Regions from separate parts of the Homo sapiens genome. Here regions 2 and 3 are each linked to region 1. Evidence: fine-mapped expression QTL. A gene starts in region 1. Each other region holds a variant in brackets. All regions are shown on one strand. Distances are between the middles of the regions.

Evidence for each region. PIP is the estimated chance that this variant, and not a neighbour inherited with it, causes the effect.
Region 2: its variant is fine-mapped to the expression of MIR3936HG in whole blood (TOPMed, PIP 0.97).
Region 3: its variant is fine-mapped to the expression of MIR3936HG in Th2 cells (Schmiedel 2018, PIP 0.95).

Annotation. Positions count from the first base shown.
Region 1 is chr5:132,367,562-132,371,803 of GRCh38, reverse strand. It overlaps MIR3936HG (MIR3936 host gene), which reads left to right and starts at 1,888. Exons shown (of 8, transcript NR_110997.1): 1 at 1,888-1,960. It overlaps SLC22A5 (solute carrier family 22 member 5), which reads right to left and starts at 2,094. Exons shown (of 10, transcript NM_003060.4): 1 at 1,439-2,094. The coding sequence starts at 1,831. RefSeq lists a silencer at 1,892-2,211.
Region 2 is chr5:132,506,460-132,510,701 of GRCh38, reverse strand. No RefSeq gene overlaps it. Among named protein-coding and RNA genes, the nearest start is that of IRF1, 18 kb to the right of the region's middle. The variant A/C (reference allele first, on the strand shown) is at 2,375.
Region 3 is chr5:132,459,881-132,464,122 of GRCh38, reverse strand. All of the region lies in intron 3 of CARINH (colitis associated IRF1 antisense regulator of intestinal homeostasis), which reads right to left. Among named protein-coding and RNA genes, the nearest start is that of IRF1, 29 kb to the left of the region's middle. RefSeq lists an enhancer at 1-147. The variant T/C (reference allele first, on the strand shown) is at 2,268.

The DNA of each region.
Region 1 (4,242 bases):
CCTCTCTATGAACTCTCCCCTCTCTGTGAACTCCGCCGTCCTGCTGGGTGGTTTCTTGCTGCTGCACTGGGGCCTTCAGCTCACTATTATGCTGAGCTGAACACCCTAGGCTCACGGAGAGGCCTCCTCTTCTGGGAAGCCTTCTCTAACCTGCGAATTGGTCATCTGCACATTTAGTGAGCCTATCTATCAATGAGGGCTATTCACTGGCTACTTACTCAATGCTGCTGAAACTTCAGGGAGCTAGAGTGCCAGTGTCTAAAAAAGACACAAAACACATACATCATTAACATCATGTTCCTACATCCAGCTCCAACAACTGCTCCAACAGGTTCGGAGGGGACAGACAAAACCACCCAGAGGGAAAATCCAAGGGGATGAGAAATGAGAAAGGCTCCCCTACACCCTATGACCTAAGGCTGTATGCTTTAACTAAATCTGGCCGACAGCCTTGCCTCATAATACCTGAGAAAATATTCCAGGTCAACAAGTCACCCTGAACCCATCTTCAGATGAATGGATCTTAAAGAGTGACAACTGACGGCCTGGCGTGGTGGCTCACGGTTGTAATCCCAGCTTTGGAGGCAGAAGCAGGCAGATCACGAGGTCAAGAGATCGAGACCATCCTGGCCAACACGGTGAAACCCCGTCTCTACTAAAAACACAAAAATTAGCTGGGCGTCGTGGCTCACAGCTACTCGGAGACTGAGGCAGGAGAATCACTTGAGCCCGGAAGGCGAAGATTGCAGTGAGCCAAGAACGCACGACTGCGAAGGTTGCAGTGAGCCAAGAACACACGACTGCGCTCCAGCCTGGTGACAGAGGGAGACTCTGTCTCAAAAAAAAAAAAGACTGACAACTGACCATGGGAAAAGGCAAACAATTACTTACAGGGCATGACCAGATTGTCGTTTTTGGGTTGTGGACGGTAGGGGAAGGAGTAACTAGAGGAAAAAGGGAAGAGGCAGTTGTATACACATGCTTTATTTAACTTTTAAAAGTTCAGGAAAGAGAAGTATTTCTTCTCTTCTAAAAAGAAATCAAGAGACTAGAGGAAAAACGGGATAGCCCCTGGCCCAAGTCCTGGCTCTGCTACTTACCACCCCCAACCCCAACTAGAGTAAGTCCTGGACACACAGGGCCATAGAGCATCGCCCAGGGACCGCCAGGACCTTCCTGGTACCCTCTTCAAAGTGGCCATCAGGACGGGAGGCCAGACTGACCACCTGTGCAGGGAGGAGCACACTGTGGCTGGAGGTCACCTCGTGAAGCGTTCCCAAGCCACCTGGCTGGAGGGTCTCCATCGCTAGGGTGTTGACCGTTGGGGGAGGGGGAGTGACAGCGTCCAGTGCGCATCTGGGAGAGAGGAGCTCGGGTTCAAGGACCGCGACAGGTCCTCCGAGCCCTGGTCTCAGCCCCAGCAGGGGCCGGCACCCACCTCGGTCACAATGGTGGACAGGTAGACGTCCTGACTGAACTCCCAGCCATCCAGACAGCTCTCCTGCTCCAGCTGCCCCAGGTCCACGTCGCGCCCCGGCTCCAGCCCAAGCGCCGAGAAGTTGGCGATGGTGGCGAGCCGGTAGCGGCGGCAGCTGTGGGGCACCTCGCGGCCGTCCCGCAGCCGCAGTGGGACAGTGTGGTTGCGCCAGGCGCTGCTCAGGTTCGCGGCGTCCGGCACCCGGCAGCGGTGCTCCGGGGTCGCTATCAGGAACACGGAGGACAGGCCGGTGAAGCCATTGGGGATGATGCTGGCGCTGAGCAGGAAGAAGATGAGGCGCTGGAAGGGCCCCCACTCGCCCAGGAAGGCGGTCACCTCGTCGTAGTCCCGCATGCCGCCCTCAGAGGCCCACAGAGCGCGGCCTGGGGTCGGGGAACGCGGCGGGCTTTGCGCGTGCGCGCGGGGCACCCGCCGCCGACCAGGCAAGCCAGGCAGCAGGCGACCCAAGACCGTCCGCGGAGGGTAGGCTCGCGAGCTGACACCGCCGCCTTGGTCCTGCCGCGGCTGGCCTTACATAGGGCGCACGACCAGGGAAGGTTGCGGGCCTGGGCCGCAAGGCGCGCCCCGCTGGCAGGCAGAGCGGCGCCGGCGAAGGCGGAGCTGGGGCGGGACGCGAGGGCGCGGGGCGGGCCGGGAGTGCACCTGAGGCCCGGGCGGGGCCTGTCCTGGGGACCTGGCGAGGCCCGGCCTCTGCCAGCCAAGCCTGCTGGGGACGACCGAGGTAGCCCGGGCTCGGCTTAGGAAGGCAGCGGGACTCGAGGCCTTGGGGTCCGAGTCCGAACTCGCTCCTCTAGCGCCGGGCGGGGAGCGAGTGGGAGAGCGGCCGCGAAGCTCCAGTGTTGAAAACGCACCCCTCCCAGCTTTTTGCAAGGCCTACTTGGGGGCGGAGGTAAGGAGAAAGTCACTGGCCCAGGGTCTCACAGATAGTTGCTCTTGACACCGCCTAATCTTATAAGAGGGACGGGGATTATTTTGAACCTGGGACTGTTAACTACCCTAGTAGAGAGGCTGGGAGCTATGACTTTTCATTCTAGTCCAGATGCCCTTTCCACATTTTCGTCTGTAACAAGCCATTTTGTTCATGCAGATGTAAAAATTTAACTTCACGATTAACGATCCTAGCCTAGGGTTAAATATTCCCCACAGATTAGTTATTTCCGTGCAGAGTTTATTCAGAAGCTAACTGGAAAAAAAAAAAAAGCAGCGAGGTGATTCTAAAGCAGCAATGTTCCATAGGATAAGGAGCTACATTTGTTATGTTAACTTTTCTAGTAGCCATATTAATAAAATTGCCAGATTTAGCAAATAAAAATATAGGACTCCTAGTTAAATTTGAATTTCAGATATAGAATGAATAATTTTTAAATATTATGTCCCAAGCAGGAATATATAAAATAAAAATGTAACTGGTTGTCCTGTATTTTATTGGGCAATGCTGCATATTTAAAAAGTAAAAATAAAAGATGAAATTAACTTTAATGGTATATTTAATCAAGTATATCCAGAACATGATCATTTCATCATATAATCAATATAGAAATTATTGATATTTTACATTGTTATATGTAAATCATTGATCTTTTTTTCCCCTCCTCATACTAAATCTTAAGAATTCAGTGTGTTTCACAGGTTCTCAGGATTTGAAAAAAAAAAAAAAAGGAATCCAGTGTGTATTTTACAGCACATTTCAATTTGGACTAGCCACACTTTTTATTTTTTAATATTTATTTATTCATTTATTTATTGGAGACACGGTCCCACTGTGTCACCCAGGCTAGAGTGCAGTGGCACAATCATAGCTCACCGCAGCCCTGAACTCCTAAGCTTAAGTGGGCCTCCTGCCTCAGCCTGCTGAGTAGCTAGGACTACAGGCACATGCCACCGTGCCCAGCTAATTTTTTTATTTTTTTTATTTTACAGAGACAAGGCATCCCTGTGTTGCCCAGGCTGGTCTCAGACTCCTGGGTTTAAGCAATCCTCCCACCTCAGCCTCCCAAAATGCTGAATTACAGACGTGAGCCACTATGCCTGGCCAGACTCATTTTTTAAGTGCTCAGTAGCCACATGTAGCTATTGGTTATCTTATTGGACAGCACCATTCCTAAGGCCTTTAAGAATTTGGGCTGCTAAACTTAACAATGCAAGATATTCCTTTTTAAAATAGTAGTGGCTTAGTGATAGAAACAGAACTAAGTGTATATTTTTACAATATAATGTGTTGAGTAAAGAATATTTAATAGTCACTATATTATGAGTTGAAAATAAAGCTACAGAAAGGGAACCTAACCTGGCCAGCAGATTTTTAACAAGGAAATCTAAACATTTGCATAAAGCATAATAGACTTAAAAAAATTATGATAAAGATGTTATCACAGGACTTGTTTGTTTCTTTATACTTACTATTCACTATTCTTACTTCCTGAAGATGGATGGTTATACCTTCAGCAATGTACTTAAATCCTTCTAACATCTTATGTGAAGTTATAGTTCTTATCTAGAACTAACTGAAAAAGAAAGCAAAGCTTCTTGAAAATAAACTCCTTTTTTGTGTGCTAAAATATTATTTTAATGCTTCAAAAGAAATGAAAGCTTTTATGAGAAGAATGTTGACCTCTGTCCAGACCAAACAAGATGAAGAAGTCTTATTTTAACATTTGAGAAATATCAGTTGGGCATCAGATAACATTCCTGAAAGGGACTGAAAACAATGCAGTATACTACAAAAGAAGCTGCATATCCTTAGG
Region 2 (4,242 bases), 140 kb before region 1:
ATTTTGTTCTATTTAGGCCTTTAACTGATTGAATGAGGCCCACCCATATTAGGGAGGGTAATCTCCTTTACTCAGTGTACCAATTTAAATGTTATTTTCACCTGTAAACATCCTCACGGAAACATCCAGAATAATGTTTGACCAAACATCCAGGCACCCTGTGGCTCAGTCAAGTTGACACATAAAATTAATCATCACAAGTGTTCTTTCATTTCAGCCTGAAGGACTCCCTTTAGCAACTTTTGTACAACAGGCATACTAGCAAAGAACTCTGTTAGTTTTTGTTTATCTGGGAATGTCTTAACTTCTCCTTCATGTTTGAAGAATAGTTTTGCCACATATGGAATTCTTGGTTGACAGTTTTTCTTTCAGCTCTTTGAATATGTCATCATATTGCCTTTTGGCCTCTGTGGTTTCTGATGGGAAATTAGCCATTAATCACATTAAGTATCCTTGTATATGACTCATCACTTCTCTCTGACTGCTTTCAGGATTCTCTCTTTGTATTTATCTTGACCATTGGATTATAATGTATCACAATATGAATATCTGAGTTTATCCTACTTGGGGTTTGTTGAGCTTCTTGCATGTGTAAATTCATATCCTTTACTTTTACCAAATTTGAGAAGTTTTGAGCCATTATTTCTTCAAATATTCTTTCATCCCCTTTCTTTCTTTCCTCTCCCCCTGGGTCTTCTGGTATGCATATGTTGGTACCATCAGTGGTATTCCACAGGCCACTTACGCTCTATTTGTTTTTCTTCATTCTTTTTTCTGTCCCTCAGACTGGGTAATCTCAATTGACCTGTCTTCAAATTCACTGATTCATTCTTTGCCTACTCACATAGCTGTTGACCCCTTCTAGTGCATTGTTCATTTCACTTATTTTACTTCTTAACTCAAAATTTCTAAGTCCTTTTTTATAATTTCTATTCTTTTACTGAAATCTGCTATTAGGCGAGACACTGTTTTCATGCTTTCCTTTAGTTCTTTGCATATGGTTTCTTTTAGCTCTTTCAGTACATTTAAAAATACTTGATTTAAAATCTTAATCTATTAAGTTCAATTCCTGAGCTTCCTCAAGGACAGTTTCTATTAATTATTTTTGCTGCGTATGAACCATACTTTTTTCTGTCTTTTCATGGCATGTAATTTTTTTTGTTGAAAACTGGACATTTTTACTGTTATAATGTGACAACTCTGGAAATCACATTCTGCTCCCCTTTCAGGTTTGTTGTCATTGTTTGCTAGTTGTTTTTGTTTGTTGTTGTTGTTGTTGTTGTTGTTTACTTAGTGACCTTTCTGAACTAATTTTTTAAAGTCTGTATTCTTTGTCACGTGTGGCCACTGAAAAGACTTTTCCATTAAACTTTTCCACTAGTGGTTGGCTAGTGATGACTGAAATTTCCTTTATACCTAGAACAACATAAAAAAAAAATTCCCAATATCTTCAGATGAGCTCTGTATGTGTTTTGAGGTGTGGCTTTTAACACTTAGCCAGGCTGTTTACAACTCTGCCTTAACCTTCCTTTTCTGCTTGCAGAGTCTGGAGGTCAGTCAGAGGTGAGAGTGTAGAGTCTTCTAGGATATTTTCTGAGCATATGTGTGACCTTCTTAGATATCCAGAAAGCTTTTTAAAGCCCTTATTTCTTAAAGTGTTTCCTTCTCCAGCCTTTTTTCTTAAGCTTTTGGTTTGTCTATTATTTCCCTAACTGTTACCATTAGTGAATGCATTTGTTTTTAACTCTGTGCATGTGTGTGTGGTTTGTTTGTTTTTCCAAATGCCCCAGGTAGCTGCTTCAGCCCTGGGAGAGTTCTAAGTTAGGTGAAATTAAAGTAAATCTTTTGTGCTCATCCTTCAGGGAACCAACAGACAGGTCAAAACAGGCAACCACAATCCTTTGAGAGTAAGTTCCATTCTGCTCCCTCGAACACTAAGAACCTATATCAAGAATGCAGGCTGTTGTCTTCAAGGCTGCCACCAAGCTGGGAAAGAGGAGAATGGAGCCCAGGTATGTTAAAACACCACAGTGTTTTCCCACTGAGATTTAGCCGTTTTTCTTCTTGATTAAAATTTATTGGCTGGGCATTGTGGCTCATGCCTGTAAACCCAACACTTTGGGAGGCTGAGGTGGGTGGATCATTTGAAGTCAAGAGTTCAAGACCAGCCTGGCCAACATGGTGAAACCCTGCCTCCACTGAAAATACAAAAATTAGCTGGGCATGGTGGAGGGCACCTGTAATCCCAGCTACTCAGGAGGCTGAGGCAGGAGAATCGCTTGAACCCAGGAGGTGGGGGTTGCAGTGAGCCAAGATCACACCACTGCACTCCAGCCGGAGCAACAGAATGAGACTCTCCCTCAAAAAAAAAAAA[A/C]AGAATTTATTTTATTAAAAAAAAGAATTTATTTTATTTATTAAACTTTTTATTAGTCTCCAGAGTTCTAATAAAGTTGATTTTGCCAGTTTTTTTCACTGTTTTTTATGGAAAAAGGAGTTTTGGAGTTCTCTATTCCATTTTTGCTGATACCATTCTTAGATCATTTACATTTAATGGAATTACTGATATGGTTGGATTTGTGTCTACCATTTTAAGGACATTTATTGTGTTTTTAACTTTATCTGCTTGTATAGTTCTGTTTGTTTTTGTTTTTGTTTTTAGTGGTTGCTCCAGGGATTACAATATACGTCTTTACCTTTTCATGGTCTACTTAGAATCAATATTTTACCATTTTAAGTGTAATGTAAAACTTTAGTTTCTTTTATTCTACCCTCTTTATGTTGTAGTTGTCTTATGTGCTATCTACATATAACATTGAAAACACCATCAAAAAATGTTATAATTTTTGTTTTAACCATAAAACGTATTTTAAAGAACTCAAGAGCAGCACAGAATGTTGCATTACCTCAGATCTTTACCATTTCTGTTGGTCTTTTTTTCATTCCTGATATTCCAAGTTAACTTCTGGTATCATTTCTCATCTGTCTGAAAAACTTCTTGTAGCAATTATTTTAGGACGGGTCTGTTGTCAAAGAACTCTCTTAGTTTTCCTTCATCTGAAAACGTCTTTATTTCACTCTCACTCCTGAAGCATATTTTCATTGAGTATTCTTGAAATTGTGAAGAGAATGGTGGGTTGATGGTTCTTTTTCTTCATTTTAAAGATGTGATTCCACTTCCTACTGGTCTCTACGATGAGATTTCCTCTCTCCTCATGAGGAAGCTGAAGTCATTTGAATTGTTCTCCTATGTGTGATGTGTCATTTTTCTCTAGCAATGGTACATGTATGCTTATATGTATGTATGTGTGTATATATATATATATATATGTACATATATTCTTCAGTTTTATGTCCTTTTCCAAATTGAAGATGTTTTTAGTCAATATTTCCTCAAACATTTTTATCTTCACTGCACTCTTTCTTCTTTCCTTCTGGAACTCTAATGACATAAATATTAGACCTTTGGTATTGTCTCACTAGTCTCTGAGGTTCTATTCACTTTTTAAAAATCTTTTTCTCACTGTTTTTCTGTTTGGATAATTTCTGTTGGTCTGTCTTCCAGTTACTGGCTTCCTCTTTCCTCTCATTTATATTCTGCTCTTGAGTTACCTAGTGAGCACTGAAATTTTGGTTCTTATATTTTATTTATTTATTTATTTATTTATTTATTTATTGAGACGGGGTCTTGCTTTGTCACTCAGGCTGTAGTGCAGTGGTGTGATCACGACTCACTGCAGCCTCGAACTCCCAGGTTTGAGCTATCCTCCCATCTCAGCCTTCCAAGTAGCTAGGACCACAGGTTCATGCCAACACACCTAACTTATTATTTTTTTTAGAGACGGGGTCTCACTTTGTGGCCCAGGCTAGCTTCGAACTCTTGGGCTCAAGTTATCCTCCTGCCTTGGCCTCTCAAAGTGTTGGGATTATAGCATGAACTACTATGCCTGGCCCTTATATTTTTAAGTTCCAAAACTTTTACTTCCCTATTCTTTATATCTCCTATTTCTTTGCTGAGACTGTCCATCTTCCATTCATTCCAAGAGGGTTTACTTGGAGCATTTTCATAGTAGTACTTTAAAGTCTTTGTTACTTAATTCCAACATCTCATCATTGGTCTCTTTTGATTGTCTTTTCCCATGCAAAATGAGATTTTTCCTATCATAGGCCAGGAAGATCATACTTTGGTTTTGTATCCTGGACATTTTAAATTTTATGAGACTCTGGGTATTATTTGAACATTGT
Region 3 (4,242 bases), 92 kb before region 1:
CATCAGAACAGCTAGAGCACACCTGAGGCACGGCCTCATCCTCTCCAAGTCACTTCCTGCCACAGATGCTCGGGAAGTGCTGCTTCTCTGTGCAGCATCTCCTGCCCTCCTCCATCTGGTGTTGGAGGCATCTTAGATGTTCTCTGGGACCTGAGGTCTGTAGGAAACCCCGGCTGTGGACTTCACACAAGGGTCGCTCTTTCCCACACTCCAGGTTTCCCTTTAAGCTGCTAATTTGTAACAGGCATTCATAGAAACAGAATAAGATAGAGAAATTCTATTAAAGGACCTTATGTGCTTTTGCTCTGTCTGTTGCTCCATTTATTTGCAATTTATAGCCTAATCCAAGAGGATTTAAGGACAATTAAATATTTCTTTCCCCTCAGTGTGTGTGTGCGAGTGCACGTGTAAGAGTGTGTAGGGGTTGGGTCTTCCAATGTACCTTTGCCCTGGTTTGACCGTGGGGGGAGAGGGTGGGCAGGTCTCCAGGCCTGCCAGATGTAGACCTTTCCTAATGTCTACAGCAAATTTGTTCTTCAGTGTTTCTAGTATCAGTTTTTGATCAATCATTAATCAAAGTTGCAATAAAAAGATAATCTTCTCAGGACTAGGCTATAAAGGTCCTGGCTGCAACCTTAAAAAACCCTTCTGTGGAGGCCTCAGAGCCAAGAGAAAAGGGCGATGTGTCTGTGGCTGGATTTGGAGGTAAATGAACGTGCTGTCCCTCTCTAATTGGTGTGCACGAACATGAACTTCAGTCACTTGCGTGGCTATGGCCTCTTTCTTCATCTCTCCCTGCCAGTGAAGCTGGTGGTGCCCTGGCTCCCAAGCCAGGTGGCAAAGCTGGGGAAGGAGGCTGTAGTTGGGCCCAAATATGGGGGTCTGGGGGCACCTCCACAGGTTGTGACCACTGCAGCATGCTCTGGGGCCAGGCCTATGGCAGTGGAGGCAGGACAGCCCCCAGGACCACAGAGCCCCCATAGTGGAGGGAGCCACTACTTGGGCGGCTCAGCTCATTCCTGCTGACTTGCTGCTGTACAGGGCAGAGGGGTGCCTGAGACAAAGAGGAGACACACTTCTCCCACGAGAAATAAAGCAAGCAGCTGTTCCTCTCTTGGGCCCAGCAGGGGTCAGAGGCTGTGGGACCTTCACTCCTTCCCTCTCAGTGGAGAGGGCAGATCTGCTCTTTGGGGTGTGAGGGCACAGCCTCCTGACAAGCTGGAGAAGCAGGATTTAAGAGCTAGAATCAACGGAGAATGTGAGGCCCAGCATCAGGTTCAAGAAGCAAGGGGATCAAGGTTGGGGGGGAGGCAGGGAGCCTGAGCCTGGCGCAGCCCAGACCAACAGACTGAGGAGTCCAGAGAGCCAACATGCTCACTCGGCCATCGCTAAGATGTGTAGTGTGTGAGAAGGTGTGAGAGGTACTCGCGTTTCTCTCTCCAACCCCTTCCAACATATTATTGGGTCGTGGGTGCCATGTTTTTAGTAGACACATAAAATAAATGAGTATTTTCAGAGAAGTGCAACCCTGGAGGTGCAGGGGAGTGAACTCAGCCATGAGAAATCATTCAAAGGATTGACCTATGGAACAGGGATAGACTTGCTCTCCATGGCTCCAGCAGGGAAGCAGCAGAGAGGGGAACCTTTCCTGAAAGTCCAGTGTGACATCTGAAGACACACACACACACACACACACACTTTTTTGAGAGAGAGAACGAGAATGAAAAGATACACACTGATCTTTCAACAGTCGTTGTCTCTACCTGGTGATTGCGAATGATTTTAATTTTTTTCCTCTTGTGCTTACAGTATTTTCTAAAATCTCTAAAATACACCCAAATTACTTTCTTGTTATGGCAAAATAGACATAAAATGTCTACATCCATTTTAACCATTTTTAAGTGCAGAGTTCCATAGTATGAAGTACATTCTCACTGTTGTGCAGCCATCACCACCATCCATCTCCAGAACTTTTTCATCACCCTCAACATAAACTCTGCATCCACTAAGCAGTATCTCCCTGTTCTTCCTCCTTCCAGCCCCTGGCAACCATCCTTCTACTTTCTGTCTCTATGAATTTCACTATTCTAGGTACCTCATATAAGTGGGATCATCTGGTATTTTTCCTTCTGTGTCTGGCTTATTTCACTTAGCATAATGTTTTTAAGGTTCATCTATGTTATAACATGTACCAGAATTTCATTCCTTTTTAAAGCTGAATTATGTTCCATTGTACATATTCACCATATTTTGTTTATCCACTCCTC[T/C]TGTCATGGACATCTGGGTTGTTTCCACCTTTTGGCTATTGTGAATAATACTGCTACAAACACTGGTGTACAAATATCACTTTGAGTCCCTGCTTTCAATTCTTTTGGGTATATTCCTAGAAGTGGAACTGCGGGATCATATGATAACTAAGTTTTTGAGGAACCACCACATTGTTTTCAACAAAGGCTGCATGATTTTACGTTCCCAATAGCAATGCACAAGGGTATCTATTTCTTCACATCCTTGCCAACACTTATTTTCAGGTTGTTTTTGTTGTTTTAAAATAGCCATCCTAACAGATGTGAAGTGGTATCTTACTTATTATGGTTTTCATTTGCATTTCCCTAATCTAAATTACGTTTTAAAATCCAATCCTCTCTGAATTGAACCCTTTGTTCTTTATTTCTCAATAAAATGGACCTTGCCCCCTTTTTTTCCTTCTTTGTACCTATGCTCTGCATTTTAAAAAATTGTGGCAAAATACATATAACTTAAAACTTTACCATCTTAACCATTTTCAAGTGTAGAGTTCAGTATTAAGTATATTCACATTGTTGTGCCCTAACCCAAATATAGTATATAATGGCAAAAAGAAACAAAAGGCTCTCTAAAGAAAAAGAAAGCCGTGAATTCTTGGACCCCAGAGATGTTCACAAACAGATTGGATCAATCTCAGCAGGGACTTTCATTCATCTTCTGAGCATCTCTGCTGGGCTGGGCTCTGTGCCAGGCAGGGGTCTCCGTGGTGAGTGTGGCCTGGACTCTGCCCTTGGGGTTCAGCCTCTGTGGGGAACAGTTATACCCAAGGGCTGCTGTGGGCACAGAGGGACACCCTGTTGTGTGGGTGCGGCATTGGGAAGGGGCATAAGTGAGGTGGCACATGAGTTCAGGTGGGAAGGATGAGCAGACATGTACATGTGCAGAGAAGGGAACTGGCGTGTGTGGCTGGGCTGTGGCAGCACACCTCACAACCACCATTACAGGAGCATCTATTAATCATTTATGTCTGTCTCTCTACTTGATTATAAGCTGCATGAGAGCAGGGCTGATGGTTTTGTTCACTGCTGCATTGCTGCCATGCCCAGCACAGGCAAGTGTAAAAGAAACACTTGCTGAATAAATGAGTGGTTGATGACGAGGAAAAAGGAGACATTTCTTTCCAGAATCTTGGCTGTAAGCAGCAGACAGCATGGCTGTACTCCACGGGGAAGGCAGGATGGCAGGAAGCATTATACAGGTGATGGAGACAGGAGCACAGCAGGAGCCAGTGGAGAAGAAGAGTTTGAAGATTCCCTGGTTGAGAGAATGGAAGGGCGTAATTGCTGGGGAGAGGTCCCTGAAGAAAGGGGAGAGGCTGGGATGCAGGCTCAGTGGAAGGAGAGGAGTCTCCTTATGAGACTCAGATGGCCAGTGTGAAAAAGACAGAAGATACCAACTGCTGGTAAGAATGGGAAGCACACTGCATGGGGAACTCTCCTACACTGCTGGAGGCGTGTTCTTCCTGTTATTCTAGATTCAGACAGCACTCTGGTCGCTGGTTGGTGCAGGCCACCATTTGGGCCAATTAGAGGAACCCCAATATCTGCACTTGGACTATCAGAAATGAGAGCTCTACGCCCAGAGCAATTTCCAAGATGGGCCTGAATCCATGAGTCATGGCACTACATGGAGCCCAGGGTTGGCTCTGAGCCTAACAGCCTCCAAAATGTCAACTTTGTTCACGTGCCACTTTGTCCCTCATCTCATGCCATGCAGCTGGCAGGACTTCAGTTGACAGAAGGTAGACCCTGCTCTTTTCAAAAAGCACACAGGACAGGTGCTGATAGGCCAGCCCCTCCCACTGAGCTCTAGTTACTGCGGTGAACTTCACCAGGAGGTTCAGCGCCCACTGTGGCTCTGCCTGAGGGGCCTCTGTGCACACTCAGTCCAGGCACTAGCATCCCAGCGCCTGGCCAGTGGTCCAACTCCAGACTC